Homo sapiens: one gene and its partners. Each later gene encodes a partner of the first gene's protein in a complex. Each region holds a gene or a part of one and is shown on either strand. Other genes may lie near its edges.

What was found. The genes of interacting proteins can lie anywhere in the genome.
Region 2: UBTF (region 1) and POLR2F share a complex: the UniProt entries of both Homo sapiens proteins name them as parts of the pol I pre-initiation complex.
Region 3: UBTF (region 1) and RRN3 share a complex: the UniProt entries of both Homo sapiens proteins name them as parts of the pol I pre-initiation complex.

Annotation. Positions count from the first base shown.
Region 1 is NC_000017.11:44,216,663-44,224,614, reverse strand, and holds the start of UBTF (nucleolar transcription factor 1), read left to right. Parts: upstream 1-4,939; 5' UTR 4,940-5,170; intron 5,171-6,318; 5' UTR 6,319-6,385; coding exon 6,386-6,443; intron 6,444-7,910; coding exon 7,911-7,952. UniProt on the Homo sapiens protein: Recognizes the ribosomal RNA gene promoter and activates transcription mediated by RNA polymerase I (Pol I) through cooperative interactions with the transcription factor SL1/TIF-IB complex.
Region 2 is NC_000022.11:37,963,693-37,969,829, forward strand, and holds the end of POLR2F (DNA-directed RNA polymerases I, II, and III subunit RPABC2), read left to right. Parts: intron 1-3,406; coding exon 3,407-3,478; intron 3,479-3,870; exon of another isoform or gene 3,871-3,932; coding exon 3,933-4,023; 3' UTR 4,024-5,620; downstream 5,621-6,137. UniProt on the Homo sapiens protein: DNA-dependent RNA polymerase catalyzes the transcription of DNA into RNA using the four ribonucleoside triphosphates as substrates.
Region 3 is NC_000016.10:15,070,256-15,077,278, reverse strand, and holds part of RRN3 (RNA polymerase I-specific transcription initiation factor RRN3), read left to right. Parts: intron 1-628; coding exon 629-721; intron 722-2,417; coding exon 2,418-2,556; intron 2,557-4,198; coding exon 4,199-4,329; intron 4,330-6,027; coding exon 6,028-6,158; intron 6,159-7,023. UniProt on the Homo sapiens protein: Required for efficient transcription initiation by RNA polymerase I (Pol I). Required for the formation of the competent pre-initiation complex (PIC).

The DNA of each region.
Region 1 (7,952 bases):
GTGTACTTTACTATCTCTGACTTACACAGCAATAAAAAAATAACAAGGGACAGGCCGGGCGCAGTGGCTCACGCCTGTAATCTCAGCACTTTGGGAGGCCAAGGTGGGCGGATCACCTGAGGTTGGGAGTTCGAGACCAGCCTGACCAACGTGGAGAAACCCCATCTCTACTAAAATTACAAAATTAGCTGGGCGTGGTGGTGCATGCCTGTAATCCCAGCTACTTGGGAGGCTGAGGCAGGAGAATCGCTTGAACCCAGGAGGTGGAGGTTGCGGTGAGCCAAGATCGCGCCATTGCACTCCAGCCTGGTCAATAAGAGTGAAACTCCGTCCCAAGGAAAAAAAAAAAAAAAGTAACAAGGGACAATAACATTCTTGGCCCAAAAACGTGTGTCTTTATACCATCTTAAATAAAAATTTAAAAACAGAACATTTCCAATATGCATTAAAATACATAAATCTGAAAATATTGGTATACCATCTAAAATTACTCCCTGTAGACTGGTAATTTAAGTACCACACTTTGGTTAACGCATTCCAGGCACTCTGGGGGTTTTATATAAGCTGGTGCTTGGATGCTGGCAACCTGGGGAAATACTGAGGCCAAGTGGAAATTGTGTAGCTAGGATCCCGCTTTGTCACCAGCCTGGGCTGGGGTTATTGAATGCCAGCGCTCTGCTTCAAGGCACATGCCAGAAGGCTGGAGGGTGAGGAGGGAGATGAACTGGGAAATGGGGCAAAGAAAAAGGGCCAAGGGCAGATTCCTCATACTCTGGCCGTTAGCCCAAGTCTTGGACTCCTGACCTCACCACAGACGAAATAGATGTAAAACAAGCCAATTCGTTTCCAAGTGGGAAGGGTGCCAGCCATAGTTTTTGCTGCCCAAGGAATCAATAAATACTCATTCTTATGATTCATGTTCATCCTGTTTTATTCCAAAGCACTTTACCGAAAAGCCCCTTGGCCCAGCCAAAAAGTTCAGGGCCAGGAGCCAGGACACCTGGACTCCAGATCTGCATGTGGAAGATTTGGAACGTTATTGGTGGGGGGGGGTCTCAAGTTCTCTGTAATGTGGCAAGTGCCATCTGTGGAGGACTTTACAATTTTACATACATCATCTCATTTGGCCTTCTGATCCCTGGTGAGAGAAGCAAATTAAACAGGATTGCTATTCTAACTTTACAGATACGAAACTGGGACCAGGGAAGGTTAATAAGGCACTCAGATTCACACACTATTAAGAAGGTGGGGAAGTTGGGACTTTTGATTCCAAACCCTTTGCTCTTTCCTAGTCAAAACAATAAAGTCAGTTCTATGCCTCACTTTTCCTTTTTTTTTTTTTTTTTTTGACATATTATAATAGGGGGTGTGTGTGTTTGTAGAGGCAGCATCTTGCTATGTTGTCTAAGCTGATCTCGAACTCCTGGGCTTAATCACTTAAGACCTCCTGTCTTGGTCTCCCAAAGTGCTGGGATTACAGGTGTGAGCCAGTGCGCCTAGCCCACCATGCCTCACTTTTAGCGCAGTGTGATCCTACACAAATTGCCCTGTGTATATTCCAAGGGACGATCTGGGTTTGTAGGGCCAGAAACACGTGCAGTTCTGGGGTAGCGGGGAGGTGGTCGGTGGCTCTTTTAACAAAAAAATACCAAATGATGAAAACAAAATTAAGTTCAGGGCCTTGGGCAGGTCCTGCAAGTTAGGGGCCTAGAAGCTGAAATTTCATTAACATCTACTAGTGGTAAATCCGCTTCTCCTACATGCCAGTGCCCTCTGGGAAAAAAAAAAAAAAAAAACAGGACACACCAGATCTTGACAGGGCTTCCTCCCTGTTGGTGAAACCTGATAGAAGTGGGATGTGGAAGTCCTGGGAAAGCAATCTCATTTCTCCCAGGAGACAAGAGGAATTACAGCAGCAGCGAGGCAGGCCGAGTGAAGGAGAAGGCTGCGTGCCAGGGGAGAGTCGAAAGGGGCTGGGTGACCCAGCTGGCCGAGATGCGGGCAGTAGAGCGTCGGTGTGGGAGACTGGCAGCCTGAGAGCCAGGAGCAATGGCGCTGCCCCAGGAGCGGTGGCTGGAGGCTGGGCCCGTTGGAAGCAGGCTTCCTTCAGATGGTCTTCTGGCTCCCTGCGTCCTGTCCTGATAACCTTTCCTCTGAAAAGGGGAGGCAAAGACAGTCAACCACGGCCGTGGCAGTGGGAGAGTGGGTGGTGGACCCTGTCCAGGCCTTTCATCCCCGGCCTGCAGGACAGTGAACCAAGGGACGTCTTGTCGGAGGCTGCCCCGCTGCCACCCGGGGCAGCGAGAACCGGGTGCTGGGCTCCCCTCGCGGCTGCCCGCCGCCGCCGGGGGGCAGCGCCTGCGGCCTGCTTTCCTAGGGATGGCCGAGGCTTTTTGACAAGCTGATTGCGTGGCGGGGATTGGCTGGTCCGGGTGTGACGCCGGTAACAACAAAGGTGGAGTTGGAAGAAATTAGATTAAAGGAGAGGAAAAAAATTAAAGGGGGAGCTGGCATAGGACAGGAGGTAGAGACCGAGGGAGAGATGCGCCAAGCGGTGTCTCCCGGTTCCAACTCCCCCCACACCCGCCTCGACCCTAGAAGATCCCTCGCGCAAACCCACTGGGATTTTGCTCTTTCCCCTACCCCGGCCCAGTGACCGACGCCGGGGTAGCTGCTGCTTCTTGAAAAATCCCCGCAACTCCCACCCCGACACCCGTCACTACGACCCAGGGGGAGAACTTTTTGCTCGGACTCCTCGGATCCTAAACCCAGCGAAACGGGACATTGAGAAGCTTGTCCTAAAACCCGGAAGGCCCTTGCGGAGCATGGAGATCGGATAAGGCGGGGTGCTCCCCCGGTTTTCCGATGTGTTGCAAATCTAAGAGCTTCTTTCTCGCTTTTTTTTTCCCTGTAACTACCCCCCCCCCCTTTTGCTTCAGGGTTGCAAAAGCAAAGAGCAATTAAAAAAAAAAAACCGCGCACACACTCAGACACACACCAGTGGCGACAGGGGAGAGTTGGAAAGACGCAGGAGAGAAGCAGGAGGCAGGAGGCAGCGGGGATGGAGCAATGGGAGCGGGAAGCAGGCAGGTTTCCTTGCAAATCCCCCTCCGGCCTCACGCCGTCTCGCCGGCCCCGGCAGGGGAGCGAGGACCCCGGCGAACAGATGGAGGAGTGGAGCTCGCTCTAGGCAGCTGGGCTTGGCCGGAGAATGGAGGAGCCACCAAGCGACCGGCTGATTGGAAGAGAAACGCAGAGCGATGGAGGCGGGGTAGGAGGACGATTTCTCTGCGGGGACTGGCGGCGGCGTACACGCCCGGGTCGGGCGCTGCAGAGCTTGGCTGGCTTTCAACCCGCGCTCGCCGGCTCCAGCCCCGCGCGCCCCCACCCCTAGCCCTCCCGGCGGCTCCGCAGGTGAGTGCGAGCTGGGGGCAGAAATATCCAAAAGTCTCAACATGCCCGCCCTGCAAAAAGAAAAAAAAAAGACGAAAACCATTTTTCTTTAAAAAAAAAAAATTTTTTTTGTGCAACCCCTAGAGCAGTGGGAGGGAAGGGGTGAGGCTGAGCCGCCCGGAGGAGGCGGAGGGGCCAGGCGAGGCCGGGGTGGCCCGGGAGGCGGCGGCGCCGAGGCGGCTCTGACGGGCAAGCGCTCGGAGCGGCGCTGCGCTGCGCCGAGGCGGGCGGGCGGGCGGGCGGAGCGGGGCGGGCGGAGCGCGGCGCGTGGGGCTCGCCATTAGCCGTCGCTCCGCTTCGCCATCTCGGGCTTTGTCTGGCGACTCGCTGCCCCGGCGTCGGCTGCAGCGGAGCTGCGGCTCGACTGTTCGGCCCGCCGTGCTCCCAGGTGCCCCCGGCCTGCGCTCCCATCCACACGCTCGGTAAGTGAGCCCGGGAGCCGCGGATTTCGGGGGAGAGGGGTTGCTACGAGTGGCGGCGGCGCCGATCTTCATGCGCCCGGGCAGGCCTGGAGAACCATGCCGGGCTGGATTGAACCGGCTCCCACAGCGGCCCCTCCGCCGGAGCCCGTCGTTCCCTTGCCGTTTCCGGGGTGTAAAGAGCAACGGGGATTTTTTTTTTTTAATGCAGAGGTTTTAGTTTTCGGGTTTTTTTTTAAGTTTCGTATGTGCCGTTCGGCAAGGAGAGGACCGCGAGGTAGGCACCGAAGCTGGACGCCGCGATCGGCGTGCGTGCGCCCCAAACCAGCGGCCACGCTCCGGGGGATGAGGGTGGGCGCGGACCGCTCGCTCCGGGAGGCGGGAGAGAGCTGGCCTGGAAGCCCTAGTCTGAGCTGGGAGAACTTGGGGGAGAGCTCCGGAGCAGGGCTGTGGGCGCCCCCCGAGCCTCCCCGGACGCCGGGGGCACCTCCGGGCACCCTCTCCGCGGCCGCACCTCGGCCCTCCCTCGCCGGCGAAGCCTGCTAGTTCCCCCGCGGGTCTGGCGAGGTCGCTCTCGGCGCCCGCCCGCCCGCCTAGGCTCCGAGCCCCGCCGCCATCCGGGCGGCTGCGTGTCTCCCTGCCCCGGCCCCCCCCCCCTTCCCCGGCGGCGGCAGCAGCAGCAGCAGCAGCCGCCGCCGCCGCCAGCACCACCACCACCACCCCCCTCCCCTCCTTCCTTCCCTCCGCCTCGGCCGCCCGGGTCCCCCCAGCTCCCGCCCCTCCTCCCAGCTGCCCCCCGCGGAGCCCGCCCGGGCAGGCTGTGGGAGGGAGCGGAGCCGGCGAGGCGGGCGGGCTGGCGCTCGCTCCCCGGGGGTCGGTGTGCGCTCTACGGGGAAGGACGCGCTCGCTGCCCCGCTTCTCCCGCCCCCCCTCCCGCTCCTCCTCCTCCCTTCTCCCTCCTCCTCCCCGCTCCGGCGGCTGAGGCTGCGGCGGCGGCGGGGGGTGTGCGAGCTGAGGCCGGGGCCGGCGGCGGGCGGGCTGCCTGCAGGCGGAGGGCGCTGTGCTTTGTGCTTTTCGCCGCGAGGAGCAGCAGGCAGCAGCCACAGCCGCCGCCGCCGCCGCCGCCGCCACAGCAGCAGCAGCCGCCGCCCCAGCGCCGCCGCCTCGCCCGGAGGAGGAGCCGCTGCCGCCGCGGGAGGGAGCTGCGGCTGTGCCCGGCCGAGCGGGGGAGGGCGCCGCCACTCAGAGCCAGGGAGGGAGCCGCTGGAGCGGGAAGCCCGGAGGCCGCGCTGCGCCGGGTAACCGAGGCGGCTGAGGACGCGCGCTGGGGTCGGGGCCGGACGGCGGGAGCGAACCGCGGGGTGCGGTGGGCGCCCAGCGGGGACCCGAAGCGACCACCGAGCAGGCGACCGGGCGCGAGCAGACCAGGGCACTTGGGAGGACGCCGAGAGCCGGGGGAGGGGAAGGCAGGAAGCGAGGCCTGAGCCGAGCCCCGGCCGCTGGCGGAGGAGCCCGCGCTTCTCGGAGCCGGCAGGCGCAGTTCTCCCCGGCCGCCGGAGGGGGCGGCGGGGCCGGTGAGCGCTGCGCCCCCGCCTCCCGGCCGCCGTCCTCCCGCCCTCTCCTTGGCTCGGCTCCCCGGAGGCCGGGGCGGGGGCGCCGGCGGGGCTGGGCCGCAGGCTCGGGGGAGGAGGCGGCGGTTCCCGCCGCGGTCGCGCCTCTGTGCCGGGCTCCTCCGTGCGCGTCGGGGTGGCTGGGCGGTGGCGGCGCCTCTGGCCGGGGTGGGTGGCTCGGGGGCGGGGGGCAGGCTAGGCCGCTTCTCTCCGGCTGCTTGCCCGCCTGTGCGGGCGGGGACGGCGAAGGGAGCCCGGGAGGGGGGAGCGGCGGGAATCCGGATCCGGTCCCCGGGGGCGGTGCGGCCGCTCCGCTCCGGGGCTGGCGGCGGCTGCGCTGCGTCCGGGTCCCCGCCGGGTTGCGGAGGCGGGGGGAACCGGCCGGGGGGAGGCGGGAGGAGGAGACTGGGGCGCGTGCCCGCTTCCGTGGCCGCGCGCGCCCTTTACCCGCCCTTCCTCTTCCCCCGCCCTCCAGCCTGGGGCCTCCCCGGGGCGGGCGCTCCGAGGAGGAGGAGATTTTTTCTTTTTTTTTTTTTTTGGCTGGGGTTGGGAAGCGGGGCGGAGGGCGGGCGCTCGCTGCACGCGGGAGCTAGGAGCAGGCCCTCGCGTGGCCAGGGGAGGGCGCGCGCCGCGGAGCCGGGCTGCAGGGGCTGGGGGAGGGGGTCACGAGGAAGAGGAGGGGCGCACTCCCATTCCCATAGACCCCTTAAGTCTAATAAGGTCATGGCTGAGTCTCTCAGAGTGTGGACCTGCCCCCTTCTACTCTGGGCGGTTAGAAAGTCGTTAGTCGTTCACCTCTCAGCCTTCCTGAGTGGGAACTGGTATGTCTTCCAAAGGGTGAGGTGGCTTTGACCCCGGGTTGCCCGGCCAGCACGACCGAGGAGGTGGCTGGACAGCTGGAGGATGAACGGAGAAGCCGACTGCCCCACAGACCTGGAAATGGCCGCCCCCAAAGGCCAAGGTAGGGGCATCCACCCCCGGCCCTCTGAAACTTAAACCCTCTTTCCCTCGTGGCTGCGGGGCTCACTCCCTTCTTCAAGGGCTTTTTCAGTCTGCATACACTGAACTGGGGGAGAAAGTGCCTTGAGTATTTATGAATCAAGCATCTCCCACACTTGGGGTTTGGCTGAATCCAAATTATTTGGCCTGGAGTGGCTCACCTCCCCTCTCTCCCTGTCCCTCACCCTCTGTGTTAGAGGAGGCCTGCCTTCTGGGGTTCCCATTCAGCCTGAAGTGTGTCCCAGCCCAGTGTCCTGGAATGGGAGGAAGGATGAGTGTAGAGGAAGGGTCAGGAAGGGGTTGGGGAAGGCTTCTCAGGCTTTTTAGGAAGACCATGAGGCTTTTGTAGAGGCAGGTGGAGAAAAGGGCTGTTTTGGTGGTTTTAGGCCCCAAGCCATGGGATATATGTACTCAACTAGATCTCTGCCTCATTCAGCAGTGATCCAGTCTAGATGGGGATAGAGAGTAGGATGAAGCTGGACAGCTGGCCATGCTTGTGGGACATTGAGGGGAGAGGGGATTATGGGTCCACGTGGCCCATTCTGCAGAATCTCTGGCCCAGGTTACCAGATGCAAATGAAAATGGAGAGCCCTTTTGACTTCTGGCCTTGGGTGGCTATTCTCCCAGCCCATCCACAGTGGCCTAGAGCTCTCTGGGGCTGCATTTCAGTGGCTGAAAAATAACTGTTCCAGACCTGTTCTTGCTTCCCTGGGTAGTTGGGCTGACAAGACAGCTTGTAATTCTGGGGGTTCTCCCTGGAGCAGGGCCCTGAGAGTTTCTGTGCACCTGCCTACCTTGCCTCAGAGCTGCCCTGTATCCTGCTTCTGCTTCTGTTTCCTTTTTCTTATTTGCCAGAAATTCTCCCTTGATCTGCTTTAAGGGGCTAGGGGGTGGTGGGTGTCTCTAACATTGGTTTCCAGCTGTGCAGGAGAGACATCTGCATGGATTTTCCTTACTGTCCACACCCCATTCTCAGTCGTTGCACATTTAGAATATCCACTCAGAACTTGAACTTGGCAGCACATTTAGATATATTGCTTCCCTGCTTCCCTCCTTCTCTGACAAGCTACCTCGTTTCCCACAAAGCCCTGAATCACTGTACCTTCATTTCCACCCCTCTTCCCCTTACAGCAAATAGCTGCCCGTTGCAGCTTGGCACAGTATAAATGATAATAGCCTTGAAGCAAGCCAGACTTGAGTTCGAGCCTGGCTTTCTAGGTATAGCATGGTCTGGACTGGAGTCCCTGCCCTGATCCAATATGGCCACAGTTTCCTTAGGGCTGAGCCATATCTTGTCTGTGCCTTCAGATGGGAAGCAACCAGGGGCTGGGATGCCCTAGGGAGGAAGAGTTGAGCACTCAAGAACTGGGGAACAGATCGGGGGGATAGCATGAGCCAGGCATGATGGCCTCTGTTACTCTTTACCAGACCGTTGGTCCCAGGAAGACATGCTGACTTTGCTGGAATGCA
Region 2 (6,137 bases), on another chromosome or scaffold:
AAGAATTCATAAGTTATTTTTAAAACAAATAGACTGCTTATTTGCAAGTTAAACAGTCTTTCAGCACTGAAGAAAGATACTGCATTAGCACTTGATAGGATGCTGAGATGATTAAAGATGTAGTCCCAGCCGGGCGCGGTGGCTCACGCCTGGAATCCGAGCACTGTGGGAGGCCAAGGTGGGCGGATCACCTGAGGTCAGGAGTTCGAGAGCAGCCTGGCCAACATGGTGAAACCCCGTCTCTACTAAAAATACAAAAATTAGCCGGGTGTGGTGGCGCGCGCCTATAATCCCAGCTACTCGGGAGGCTGAGGCAAGAGAATCGCTTGAACCTGGGAGGCGGAGGTTGCACTGAGCCAAGATCGTGCCACTAATCCAGCCTGGGTGACAGAGTGAGACTCTGTTACCAAAAATAATTAAAAAAAAAAAAAAAGACATAATCCCCAGTCCTCCAGGTGTTTTCTGGTGGGGGAGATAGACCTGTGCACAGGTACCCACAACCCAAGGCAGATGCGAGTGGTGCTTTATGAAAGGTACAAAGAGAGTTATTGCAGAGGTGACTGGGAAAGCCTTGTGAAGGGATTAGAATTCTAGTGGGGACAGGTAAAGAGAGTTGGTTTTGTGGGTACTCCAGGTGCCAGAAACAGCCCAAGGAAAGGTCCAGGTGGAGGCAGGCAGTTGTGGATTTGTGATGAGGGATCATAAGCAGCTTGGGGCATAAGGCTGGAGAAGATGACACTGGTCCTGTGAGTGACAGGTTCAGAAGATTAGAGTTCATTTGGTGGGCAGTGTGCAGCACTTAAAGGTTTTGAGGCCAACATCCAGCATCCAGGCCACTCATAAATCCAAGTGTCCTGTTTTTCTTTTCTTTCTTTCTTTCTTTTTTTTTTTTTTTTGAGATGGAGTTTTGCTCTTGTTGCCCAGGCTGGAGTGCAATGGCATGATCTTGGCTGATTGCAACCTCTGCCTCCTGGGTTCAAGGAATTCTCCAGCCTCAGCCTCCTGAGTAGCTGGGATTACAGGCACACGCCACCATGCCTGGCTAATATTTTGTATTTTTAGTAGAGACGGTGTTTCACCATGTTGGTCGGGCTGGTCTTGAACTCGTGACCTCAGGTGATTCACCTGCCTTGGCCTCCCGAAGTGCTGGGATTACAGGCGTGAGCCACTGTGCCCAGCCAAGTGTCCTGTTTTTCTTGGGGAGCAAAGCTTGATCCAGCTCATTCCAGTCTTTAGTGCTCTTTCCACTTAAGGGCTATGACACCATCTGGTGGCTCCTTGCCTGCTGTAAGCTCTTGTACAGCCATAATGGGACTCTGCACTTGGTAGGTGCAGGTGGAGTCTCACTCTGTCACCTAGGCTGGAGTGCAGTGGTGCCATCTCGGCTCACTGCAACCTTCACCTCCTGGTTCAAGCGATTCTCATGCCTCAGCCTCTCGAGTATCTGGGACTACAGGCATGTGCCACCACGGCCGGCTAATTTTTTGTATTTTTAGTAGAGACGGGGTTTCACCATGTTGGCCAGGCTGGTCTCAAACTCCTGACCTCAGGTGATTCACCTGTCTCAGCCTCCCAAAGTGCTGTGATTAGAGGCGTGAGCCACTGCACCTGGCCAGAACAACTGTTTGTTGGGTAGGTTTTGGATGGGGTTTCAGTCTGGTTCATTAGCACCACCTGGTGGCTGATGATGTTTGTCACATCTACTTCTTAACTGGATGGTTGATGTGTTTCTCTGTAGAAGCCATGGTGCAAGAAAAATTAAATTACTTAAGGACACATTCTTGCACATTCCATGTGCATAATAGGTGCGGAATGAGTGAATGCCCTTGAATTATTTATATTTTGAAAGAAAGCAGGCACATGCAGATCAGGTATTTTGCCACATTCTTTAAAGCTTTATATTTTGGGAAAGTTTAAATACTTATTAAGAGAGGATATAGGGAAAGTTAAATACTTCATCTCTGCCCTTGGGAAATTTTCAGGCTTTTGGGAGTAATATAAATCGAAATATTTAGTAATAAAATTAGTAAGCTGGTAGCTCTCAGACTAGCTGATTATCAGAATCATCTGGGCAGTTTTGCAAATGCAGGCTCTCAGGCCGCTTCACTAGAGATTCTATTCCGGGGGTCTGGGGAAGGACCCAGGAACCTGTATTTTTTAGCATGCTCTCCTGTTAATTCTGGATTTGTTGGTGTGAACCTGAGCTGGAATCATCAGGGGTGGCTTCCTAGAGGAGATGGGCCTAGAATTGGCATCCCTTTGCTTGGTGGTAGAGTCCCCACTGTGGGCCAAGTGTTATGCTGGGGGCTGGGCCTCCGTGGTGAATCACATGTGGTTCTGGGCCACTAGGAGCTCATGGTCTAATGTGGAAAGTTTCCAAACAAGTAGTTACAGTTCAATGAGATTGGTGCCAAGAAAAGTATATGCAAAATGAGTCCAGGTACTGAAGAGTCAGCACACGATTTCCAGGGTGGAGACATCTGAACCTCTCGCAGGTTTTTAGGGAGAGGAAGAGCTTGTAAGAGCACACAAAAGGGAAACAACATGGCGCATCTAGGGAACCAGAAATAGTTTGGTATGGCTGGAATGTGGAGTAAATACAGGAAAGTAGCACGGGACTGTGCTAGGAAGGCAAACAGGGACCAGACTGCACTCTGGCCTGATAGCCAAGGGGAGTCATGACAGTGTTGTAAGCAGGTGAGCCCCCTGACTGCTGGCCTCAGGTGAAGGGTGGGGAGGGCTGGGCAGGAAGGGCAGGGCCTCTACTGAGGTGTTGTGTCTATAGAGAATGGAAATGATGCCGGGCATGGTGGCTCATGCCTTTCATCCCAGCAATCTGGAAGGCTGAGGCAGGCGGATTGCTTGAGCCCAGGAGTTCGAGACCAGCCTGGGCAACATGGCGAAATGTTAATTTCACCCATCTATACAAAAAATAAAAAAATTAGCATAGCTGGTGGTGTATGCCTGTAGTCCCAAGCAGGAGAATTGCTTGAGCCTGGGAGGTGGAGGTTGCAGTGAGCCACGATCTCCCCATTGCACTCCAGTCTGGGCAATGGGAGTGAAACCTTGTCTCCAAAAAGTAGAGAGAGAAAATAGAAATTGAAATGAGGTGCACTGGGCACTGAGGCAAGGCTCTGGGGTTGGAGCAGTTAGAATGGTGTGCCTTTGCACATGTCTCCCTTTCCACCAGGACATTCTGCTGTGGCCGCTGGACTCCGGAGTCTGTGATAGGCCTCTGCCAGGGAAGATCTCTGGCAGTGCCCCTACACACCACTCCCTACTGTGCCTGCCTACCTAGAAGATGACGTTTCTAGGTGGGGACCAGGATGCCGTTCCACCCTCACTGCCTGTTGGGCCCTTCTCCCTGGGTTTGTAGTCTCCCTAACACCTGTCCCTATCCCTACAGGATGTGTGCCCCTGTGATGGTGGAGCTGGAGGGGGAGACAGATCCTCTGCTCATTGCCATGAAGGAACTCAAGTAAGTCACTCAAATCATGGTTCACTTCTCCAAATCTCTGGGAGGCATCTGTTGGGCTCTCTGTTGCACCCTTTGCTCCCACTTGCCTGGCTGGAGAAGTTGATGCTTATTCCTACAGATCCTTAGGAACAGCTCACCAGGAAGTAGGAGGAAGAGAGAAGAGGAGGCAGGGAAAGTGGGAGGGCACTGATGAGACATGGACGTCTTCTGGCTGTTGGAATTTCCCTGTTCCTGCTGCAGGAGGCCTTACCAATATTCTGTCATTCTTCCCCCTCTTGTCTGATATAAAAACTTTCTTTTTCTTGTAATTGCTTTCTTACAAAGTACACTCATCAGCCCCAAGAGGCTGCTCCTAAGACTTCTCTTTGCTTGTGTTTTGCACACAATCTGTTCCTTCTGCGGCAGAGCTGGGGTCACCAGCCCTCATGTACTTGTGACTTCTCCCCTGCCACAGGGCCCGAAAGATCCCCATCATCATTCGCCGTTACCTGCCAGATGGGAGCTATGAAGACTGGGGGGTGGACGAGCTCATCATCACCGACTGAGCTGGAGTCATCTTCCTGCCCTTGCCCCATGCCCAATTTTCATTCTCACTTTATATGTGTAAATAATAAAATATTCAACTTTCCAACCCCCTTCCCCTCTGCTTATCTGCAATGTCACCACCTGTTGCTTCCCCGTTACCGCCATGCTGCGTGGAGCATGCACCTATTCCAGTGGCCCTGTGACTGTCAGCTCCTTAAGAAGCACCAGGGGCCCTTAGCCCCTTTGGATCCCCCACATCCTTCCCTCCATCTCCCTGTTCCCCAGAGCAAAGGCTGCTGCAGGGGAGACACCTCAGCTGCCTTCCAAGCAGACAGACAAGTCTTTGTGCCCAGGGAGCTGGTTGCCACGGAAACCCCCAATTTCCTTTCCAGTGGGGACTGGCTGCAGGGGCTTCTCCCTTCTCAGGAGTATCACAGAGCAGGTCTCATCAAGCCACCCATTGTTTCCTAAGGACCTGCTTCGAGCCTCTTATCGTGGGCTCGGATCCCCTTTCAGGAGCAGTGCCCCAGCAGGAAGCGTGGGGGTGTGCTGATCTCCCACCCTCCCCAGGCAGAGCCCTGCTGGGCAAGTCAGCAGCTGGAGCAAGGACCGAGCACCTGCCTACCCCTGCCCCCATGGCTCTGTCCCCACTCCTCCTCAGGACTCTGCCCACACGCTGTCCTCTGTGGCCCACCTCTTTGGTGTGCCACACCCATGCCTTCTTCCTAGCCTCTATAAGATATCCTTTCCCTCCTATTTGGGGCTGGTGATCCCCTGAGGCCTTGGGGACATGGTGCTGGGGTGGTGGTGCTCCTGGGTTCCAGGTGTTACATTAAGTCAGAGCTGGAGTTCCCCCTTCCTCTGCCTGAGGTTCTAATGGGTCCTCTTCCTTTCTCCACCCTGCTTACCCAACCTGAGGTAAGACCAGTCACACTGGCTCCTCCCTCCTAGAGGGGGTCAGGGGGAGGGTGTATATTGACATGAACAGGGATAGAGGGTAAACTGGCTCCCTGAATATGCCAGCCTTAACCTCCATTCCACTGCCAGCTCCCCTTCAAAGAGGAGGAGCTGGGCTTCCCTAACCTCTGCAGGAGGCAGGGCCTCCAGGCCTAGGTGCAGCCTGGCCCTGGGATGGGATGTGGGGAGTGAATGGTGAGGATCTGCATTGGTGGGAGGGGTGTCCGCTGCCCTGGAGAAGGGTTAATTCAGGGAGCAGTGGACTTCACACTCCCATCCACCCTCCTCCAAGCCTGTGGAATCCTTTAATCAAGTTGGGTGCTGAAATTTCAGCTCTGAAATGCCGCCTTTGTGCTGGCATCCAGGCAGCCGCCCCAGAGTGCGGGGGTCACTTTCTCGGCCCCATTTCTCTAAATGGTCTCTTTGTTCCCTGCTGGGCTGCTCAGTATCAGATGTGATTAAAGGGAGATGGGGTTTGGGCTGGGGAGGAGGGGAATTGGGGGTTAACCCTTAGGGGATAGAGTGCAAGGGAAATGGGACAGAAGGGGTGTTTTTCCTCCTGTCTTCCTCTTCCCATTCTCCTCTTTTGGGGAGTCCCCTGCTATTCAGCTGTCTGGGCCTGGCTTTTGACTTCTCTTGAATAAAATGTCCCGGTCACCACTATTGGTTCTGTTTTCTTAGGGTTTGGGCATAGTCTCTTGAGTCATTTCCAGAAACACCTGACCCTTTTTTAACAAGTGGAGCTCCTGCCTTCCTGAGGCCTGTGCACACTTGGAACCTTTGGTCTAAGGGATGCACACAACCCAGGTCTTCTGACTTCCTTGGGGTCATTTCCCCTCCTTCCACATCCTCAGTGATTTCCCACTCACTCTCATGAGATGTGGGGTCTTGGAGGTGATAGTGTCATCTTCCGGATGTGCCCCCTGCTCCCCACTGTGCCAGCTCCATATCCCTCATCCCACGGCGAGCAGGAGTAGTGAACAGACCACAAATGGACAAAAGTCCTGCCTTTCAATGAAGGGGAAAGGGTGGGTTGTAAAGATTATAAACACATAAGGTTAGTACTGATTGATCCATGACAAAATTCTAGAATAGGTCCCTCCATGTTTAAAAGTGCTTATATAATAAAGAGGAGATCGGGCACTAGCATAGGGTGTCTAAGAACCAATATTGCCAA
Region 3 (7,023 bases), on another chromosome or scaffold:
GGCCAGGCGCGGTGGCTCATGCCTGTAATTCCAGCACTTTGGGAAGCTGAGGCCGGTGGATCACCTGAGGTCAGGAGTTCGAGACCAGCCTGACTAACATGGAGTAACCCCATCTCTACTAAAAATACAAAATTAGCTGGGCACAGTGGCACATGACTGTAATCCCAGCTACTCGGGAGGCTGAGGCAGGAGAATCTCTTGAACCTGGGGGGCGGAGTTTGCGGTGAGCCGAGATCTTGCCATTGTATTCCAGCCTGGGCAACAAGAGCAAAACTCTGCCTCAAAAAAAAAAAAAAAAGTGATTTGGGTGGGGACACAGAGCCAGACCATATCAGAGCTAGAATAAATGTTGAATTTGTTGAGGCTGCCTGGCATAGAGCATCATGTGATAGTTGTCGATTTTATATAAGTATGTAGTAAAAGGGGCTTGGTTTATTATATTTAAATTCCTTCATGACCTAGGTCAGTTTACAGGCTTGCACCATAATTGTGTATTGTGTTGGGGTGTGATATAAGGCACTAATCTGGACACCTTGAACATGCGTATATCAGATGAATTTCCATCCCAAAATAACATAGTTGTATTTTTTAAATCCTTTTATTCTTTTTTTTTCTCCCTTTGTTATAGGTGAATGCATCCCGGCAGGGTATTGAAGATGCTGAAGAAACAGCAACTCAAACTTGTGGTGGGACAGATTCCACGGAAGGATTGTTTAATATGGTTAGCAGTTTATTAATGAAAGTGGAGATGAAGTTTATCATAAAGGGTGGAAACAGCTAGTGCTGCTCATCTTTGTTAAGGCTTTAGATTGAAAGAATTAAAATAGTTCAGCAAACTTGAAAACGATTCCTTATATGAGTAATTTGCTGCCATGTCATTTAGCACTTAGCATAGTTGGTCTATTTCCAAGGCTTTGAATTTGGGTTTGGTGAAGTATGTTTCACTTTTGTTCTTGTAACTTTCAGTGTTTGTTTTTGTAAGCCAGATGCTGTCTGTGAGGGCGTGGTTAATAGAAAAGCATACCTGTTTAATTTCTGCATTTTACCACTTGTACACTTTATAGCATTACTTCTTTTGGGTGGTATCTGAAGTTGGGTTCAGTGGAAGGAGAGTCTGAGACAGGGATTCAGGTGCCCTTGGGACAGAGGGTGTCAGGGAGCAGAAGAGGGCAGGGGAGCTAAACGGGGGCCGGGTCTCACTTGGGAGGTCGCTACAGCCTGCTCCCACCAGGCATTCTGGGGCATGGATTGGTCTACAGAGTTTGTTCCCAGCTTGAGACCAAGGAGATGTCCTTTTCTGATGCCTTGTCAATCAGTCATTGGTTCTAAGGGGGAGGGGCTGGAAAGAGTGCAAGGGTGGTCCTGGCTCCTTTCTGCTCAGGGCAGCTCTGGAGAAAGTAGGCGGCTGTGAGCTATTGGCCGCCAGTACTCACAGCAGTGGGGAGGTGGATATCCCGACCTGCAAAAGGGGGCCCGGCACCAAAAGCACCCGCCATGGTGGGCACCAGGAGCAGAGGTAGGGGGCATCTGTGATTTTTGCATGGATAGGTCTCATTGGGTCTTCTCAATGAGAATCAGAAGCTGGTGCTGTGAGTCTTGGCTTTTATTTTAAATTTCACTGGTGGTTCTGATTCACATCCCTGAATGAGACCCCTGCCTGGAAAGGTGTCTGCATTTCTTTCTTTCTTTTCTTTCTTTTTTAATTTGAGACAGGGTCTCACTCTGTTGCCCAGGCTGGAGTGTGGCAGTGTGTGATCTTGGCCCACTCCAGCCTCGACCTCCTGGGCCCAAGTGATCTGCCCACCTCAGCCTCCCCGAGTAGCTGGGACTACAGTGTACCACCGCACCCAGCTACTTTTTTTCTATTTTTGTAGAGACAGGTCTCACTGTGTTGCCCAGGCTGGTCTCAAGTTCCTGAGCTCAAGTGATCCTCCTGCCTTGGCCTCCCAAAGTGTTGGTAATTATAGGCGTGAGCCACTGTGCGTGGTCCATTTCTTTGTTTTAGTTTAGTTTTTTTTTTTTTTTTTTGGTGGGGCACAGAGTCTTCCTCTGTTGCCCAGGCTGGAGCACACGAACTCGGCTCACTGTAGCCTCCTCCACCTCCCAGTTCAAGCTATTTTCCTGCCTCTGCCTCCTGAGTAACTGGAATTACAGGCGTGCACCACCATACCTGGCTAATTCTTGTATTTTTAGTAGAGACAGAGTTTTACCATGTTGGCCAGGCTGGTCTCAAACTCCTGACCTCAAGTGATCCCCCCACCTCTGCTTCCCAAAGTGCTGGGCTTATAGATGTGAGCCGCTTTCCCCAGCCTCTTTGTTTTATCTTTTAAGGGAAATAATCACTTATGACAGTTTTCCTACTAAACCACTTTGACATTGAATTTTTTAATGTTAGTATTTACTTTTTGTCTTCAAAGGATGAAGATGAAGAAACTGAACATGAAACAAAGGCTGGTCCTGAACGGCTCGACCAGATGGTGCATCCTGTAGCCGAGCGCCTGGACATCCTGATGTCTTTGGTTTTGTCCTACATGAAGGATGTCTGCTATGTAGATGGTAAATCACAGTAGCTACTGTTTATTGAACACCTGCAGTGTACCTGGCTTTGTGCTGGGCATTTTCCATCCATTATCTCTAGTAATACTAAAAATCCTGTAAAAATATCTATTGAGTATGAGTTTAAGATGATTTAAAGAGGTCAAGTTACTTGCCAGTCACATAGCTTGAAAATGGGACTGGGATTCTGGCTGAGTTATATTTGTCTTCTGTCTTTTCACTGATTGTTGTATTGAAAGATTATATATGGAGTTTGGCCAGTTTTAGATCAAATTACGCTCAAGTTGCTGAATGCACTGAAGAATGATGTAGGGTGCACTAATATATGGTGCTCCGTTATGTATTGAGTTTAGAGGGTCTTTGCCTGGCACCATTGTTGTGCCAGTGTTAGTACTATATGTGCTTCTTGACTTCATGGAACTTTAAAGGCTTTGCCAGGCGAAAACAGAATTTTTTTCCATTCACATTGCTAAGATTTAAGATGAGCTCAGTGAGTCAGAATAATAGAACTGGAATCTGAGTTGACTGCATTACTGTTTTAACGGTCTTGCTGTTATAAAAATAATACATGTTGATTAGAGAATTTGGAAACTACAGGAAAGGATAAAAACAATTTAAATGGCCACATTTCTACTCTTCAGAGAACCATTGTGAGCATTTTGAAGTTTGACTTTTTTCCCTTTTCTGTTAGCGTCTGTATATGTAGGAGAGTATTTTTTAGTGAATTTGGGTGTCACACTAAACACAAGTGTTTCATAATCTGCCCTTTACATGGATGCTGAAGATAAACATTTTCTCATATCATTGCCTGTTTTAAAATAATTGTTATTGAATCCCAGCACTTAGGCCAAGGTGGGAGGATCACTGAGGCCAGGAGTTCAAGACTAACTATCCTGGGCAACATAACAAGACCCCATCTCTAAAAAAAAAAGTCGTAATAATAAATGTTGTTGGTCACATGGGTTTAACTGTCTTTTACTGTTTTCACCATGATAAGTAACAGTTATAATGAACATACTTGTGCCTATATATTCAGCTGTTTACTAACAGTAAAATGATCGGATTAGAGGTCTTTTGCTACACGAATGATAGAATTGCTCTTCAGAAGGGTTTGCATTTCTGACCTTGCCACAGTGTGTGAGGTGAGGGCCTGCTTCCTTGCAGGTGTTAGATTATTATATTCAGAGGAAAATCTGTGTAAACTAAAAGTAGCATTTTGTTTTAATGGTATTTTAATGGATAATGTCTGTCTTTCTTTTTTTTTTAAATAGCCACGGTCTTACTCTAACCCAGGCTGGAATGCAGTCGCACAAACATGGCTTACTGCAGCCTTGACCTCCTGGGCTCAAGCGGTTCATCCGCCTCAGCCTCCCATGTAGCTGGGATCACAGGCGTGCCACCATGCCTGGCTAATTTTTTGATTTTTTGTAGAGACAGAGCTTCCCTGTGTTCCCCAGGCTGCCCTTGAACTCCCGGGCTCCCTCTCACTTTGGCCTCCCAAAGTGCTGGGATTGCAGGCAGGAGCCACTGTGCTTGGCTGGATAATGTTGTTTTTTAATGGTGTTGTGTTTATAAAAAATATGGCAGATGAAACTTGAAAATATGTCTTTATAAAAACTGAGATGCCAGATTTTCTCCATAGGTAAGGTTGATAACGGCAAAACAAAGGATCTATATCGCGACCTGATAAACATCTTTGACAAACTCCTGTTGCCCACCCATGCCTCCTGCCATGTACAGTTTTTCATGTTTTACCTCTGTAGTTTCAAATTGGTGAGTAAGAATGTGATTAACATTATCTTAGCTTACTTTGTTTTTGCCCAAAAATTTTCCCTAAAAACTGGGGTGGACGGAGACCATGAAGTAAATAATTCTTTTCTTTGAGCTTACTTGCTAGTCTGCTTAATAAAATCGCATTCTCCTTTCTTTTTTTGTTTTCTTTTCCTTTCTTTTTTGAGACACAGTCTCGCTCTGCTGCCCACTGCTGCAACCTCCACCTCTTGGGCTCAACGGACTCTCAGTCCTTACCCTCTCGATAGCTGGGACCACAGGTTACCATGCCTGGCTAATTTTTGTATTTTTAGAAGAGGTGGGGTTTCGCCACGTTGGCCATACTGGTCTTGAACTCCTGACCACAAGTGATCTGCCCGCCTCCTGCCCCGCAAAGCGTTGGGATTACAGGTGTGAACAACTGTGCCTGGCCCACGTTCCCTTCTCAGTACACTTGGAGAGAAAACAGATTGCTGCCTGCCAGCCCAGCTAGGTGCTCCGAAAATGTCATCCTGCCTTTTGGTCACTAGGTGGTGCTCTTCCCTTAAGCCTTTCTCTATTAAAATCTCATATGGGGTAATTAACTGTATTTCCTTTATTCTTTCCAAGGGTTGAGTTGTAACTAGCCCAAACCAACTTATTAATCTAGAATTTTAAAAACTTTAGGCTTTGTCTTTTCTTCTTCTTCTTCTTTTTTTTTTTTTTTTGGTGGGGGAAAGAATGTAGAAGGCTTTTCCTTCTCTGCAACGATTTTGTGGCTTCCTAGAGATCAGGAGAGTGTTGGTCATGGGAAAGAAGGTTGAATTCAGTCTGCCCACATGGGTGTGCCTAGCTTTAGAACAGCGCTATTTAGGAGAAGTTGGAAGTTACACCCTTTGGTGAGAAGCTGTGTCTGTTTTTTTCCATGATTGGCATAATTAACTCAAATACCAGCTGTGCGTTAGTCCGTATTTCTGTTCGTGGTTGAGTTCAGTGTGTCCAGAGACCGGAAGGTGCTTTGCACTCACAGGAGTGCCCATGTGGAGCTCCATGGGATGTGAATTATTGTTGGTCACCAGTTCTGGCTGACATTGGAATCACTTGAAGAGTTTTTGTAATATGTGGATTCCAAAGCCCTGTCACAAACCTATTGAATTTGTACCTCCCAGGTTGAATTTTTTGTTGTTTTTTGTTTGTTTGTTTTTTGAGATGGAGTCTCACTCTGTCACCCAGGCTGGAGTGTAGTGGCATGATCTCAGCTCACTGCAACCTCTGCCTCCTGGGTTCAAGCGATTCTCCTGCCTCAGCCTCCCAAGTAGCTGGGATTACAGGCACCTGCCACCATGCCTGGCTAATTTTTGTATTTTTAGTAGAGACAGGGTTTCTCCATGTTGGCCAGGCTGGTCTCGAGCTCCTGACCTTGGGTGATCCACCCGCCTCGGCCTCCCAAAGTGCTGGGATTACAGGCGTGAGCCACTGTGCCTGGCCCCGGGTTGATTGTGATGCTTAGCTAGGTTTGGGATCCACTGGATTATTTAACACCCGAGGTGCCTTTTGTTTTTAATGATATTCTCTCAATGTGTTTTAAAAATGAAGCCCATGAGATAGTTATGAGATAGTAGAACTTTTCCCTACATTGGTGAAGTAAAAATCTTGGGATTTTGATAGCCAGATTATCTTAGGCATTAAAAAAGATCACACCGACGCCCTCTCTTTTTATAGGGATTCGCAGAGGCATTTTTGGAACATCTCTGGAAAAAATTGCAGGACCCAAGTAATCCTGCCATCATCAGGCAGGCTGCTGGAAATTATATTGGAAGCTTTTTGGCAAGAGCTAAATTTATTCCTCTTATGTAAGTAGCCTAATTTTCCGAATACTTTTTAATATCATGCTTTAAAAAGAGTATAGCATTGTCTCAAGTCAGAAATATCTCCCATTTTTTTTGGCATGTTTTTAAAGTGAATAAAATCCCTACTCTGTGCAAGATGTTTATATTTCTAAGTGGTGATTTTAGAATAAAGTGTCTCCTTTTTTATATATAAAACCCTGTATGTAAGGCTTTTGTCATCTCTTTTGGTTGCACTTAAAGATCCATTTGTTTTGTGGATAGAGGACAGTGTTGTATACTGTTTTGATTCTTTTTGTAGGTTTGTCATTTTTTCATTTGCATTCCAAATCTATTGTATCTGTTAAAGCTGAAGAAAAACCCTTTTAAAGGTAATAGACCTATCTAGGAGGCCAGTTTCTTCCAGTGGCCCATAAAGATACCTTTGGACAAGGATGCTGTTGAAACCCTTCCCCAACCACAAAATTATTCACCATAGGACTTGACTAGGATGCATCAGGGAATACTGAAGTCCACCAGACTGTCTTTCTCTTGAGAGGTGTTGGTGAACGTGTCCTGTTTGGCCAATCACCTTAAGAGGGGTGCCTTTGAGATGGTTAGGAGAACCTGCTTTCCATCCCTTGGGACGTTCTTAGGGGCTCACCTGTTCCTAGAAGGTCAGAGCTACTCTGCCTTGTAATTGGAAGGTTGTCTTCCTACGCACCCATCCTTATCCTTCCTTTCTTTGCTTTTCCTCTGTACCCATGGGTATTATTTAAAGAAACCTATGAACTTACTTAGCATGGTTTGTAATGAAAGGCAGTTGTGTGTTTTTATGTTATTCTGGTTTTTTTATGATGTGTAAAGTTGACTTGAATTTTTCTTTTCTCTA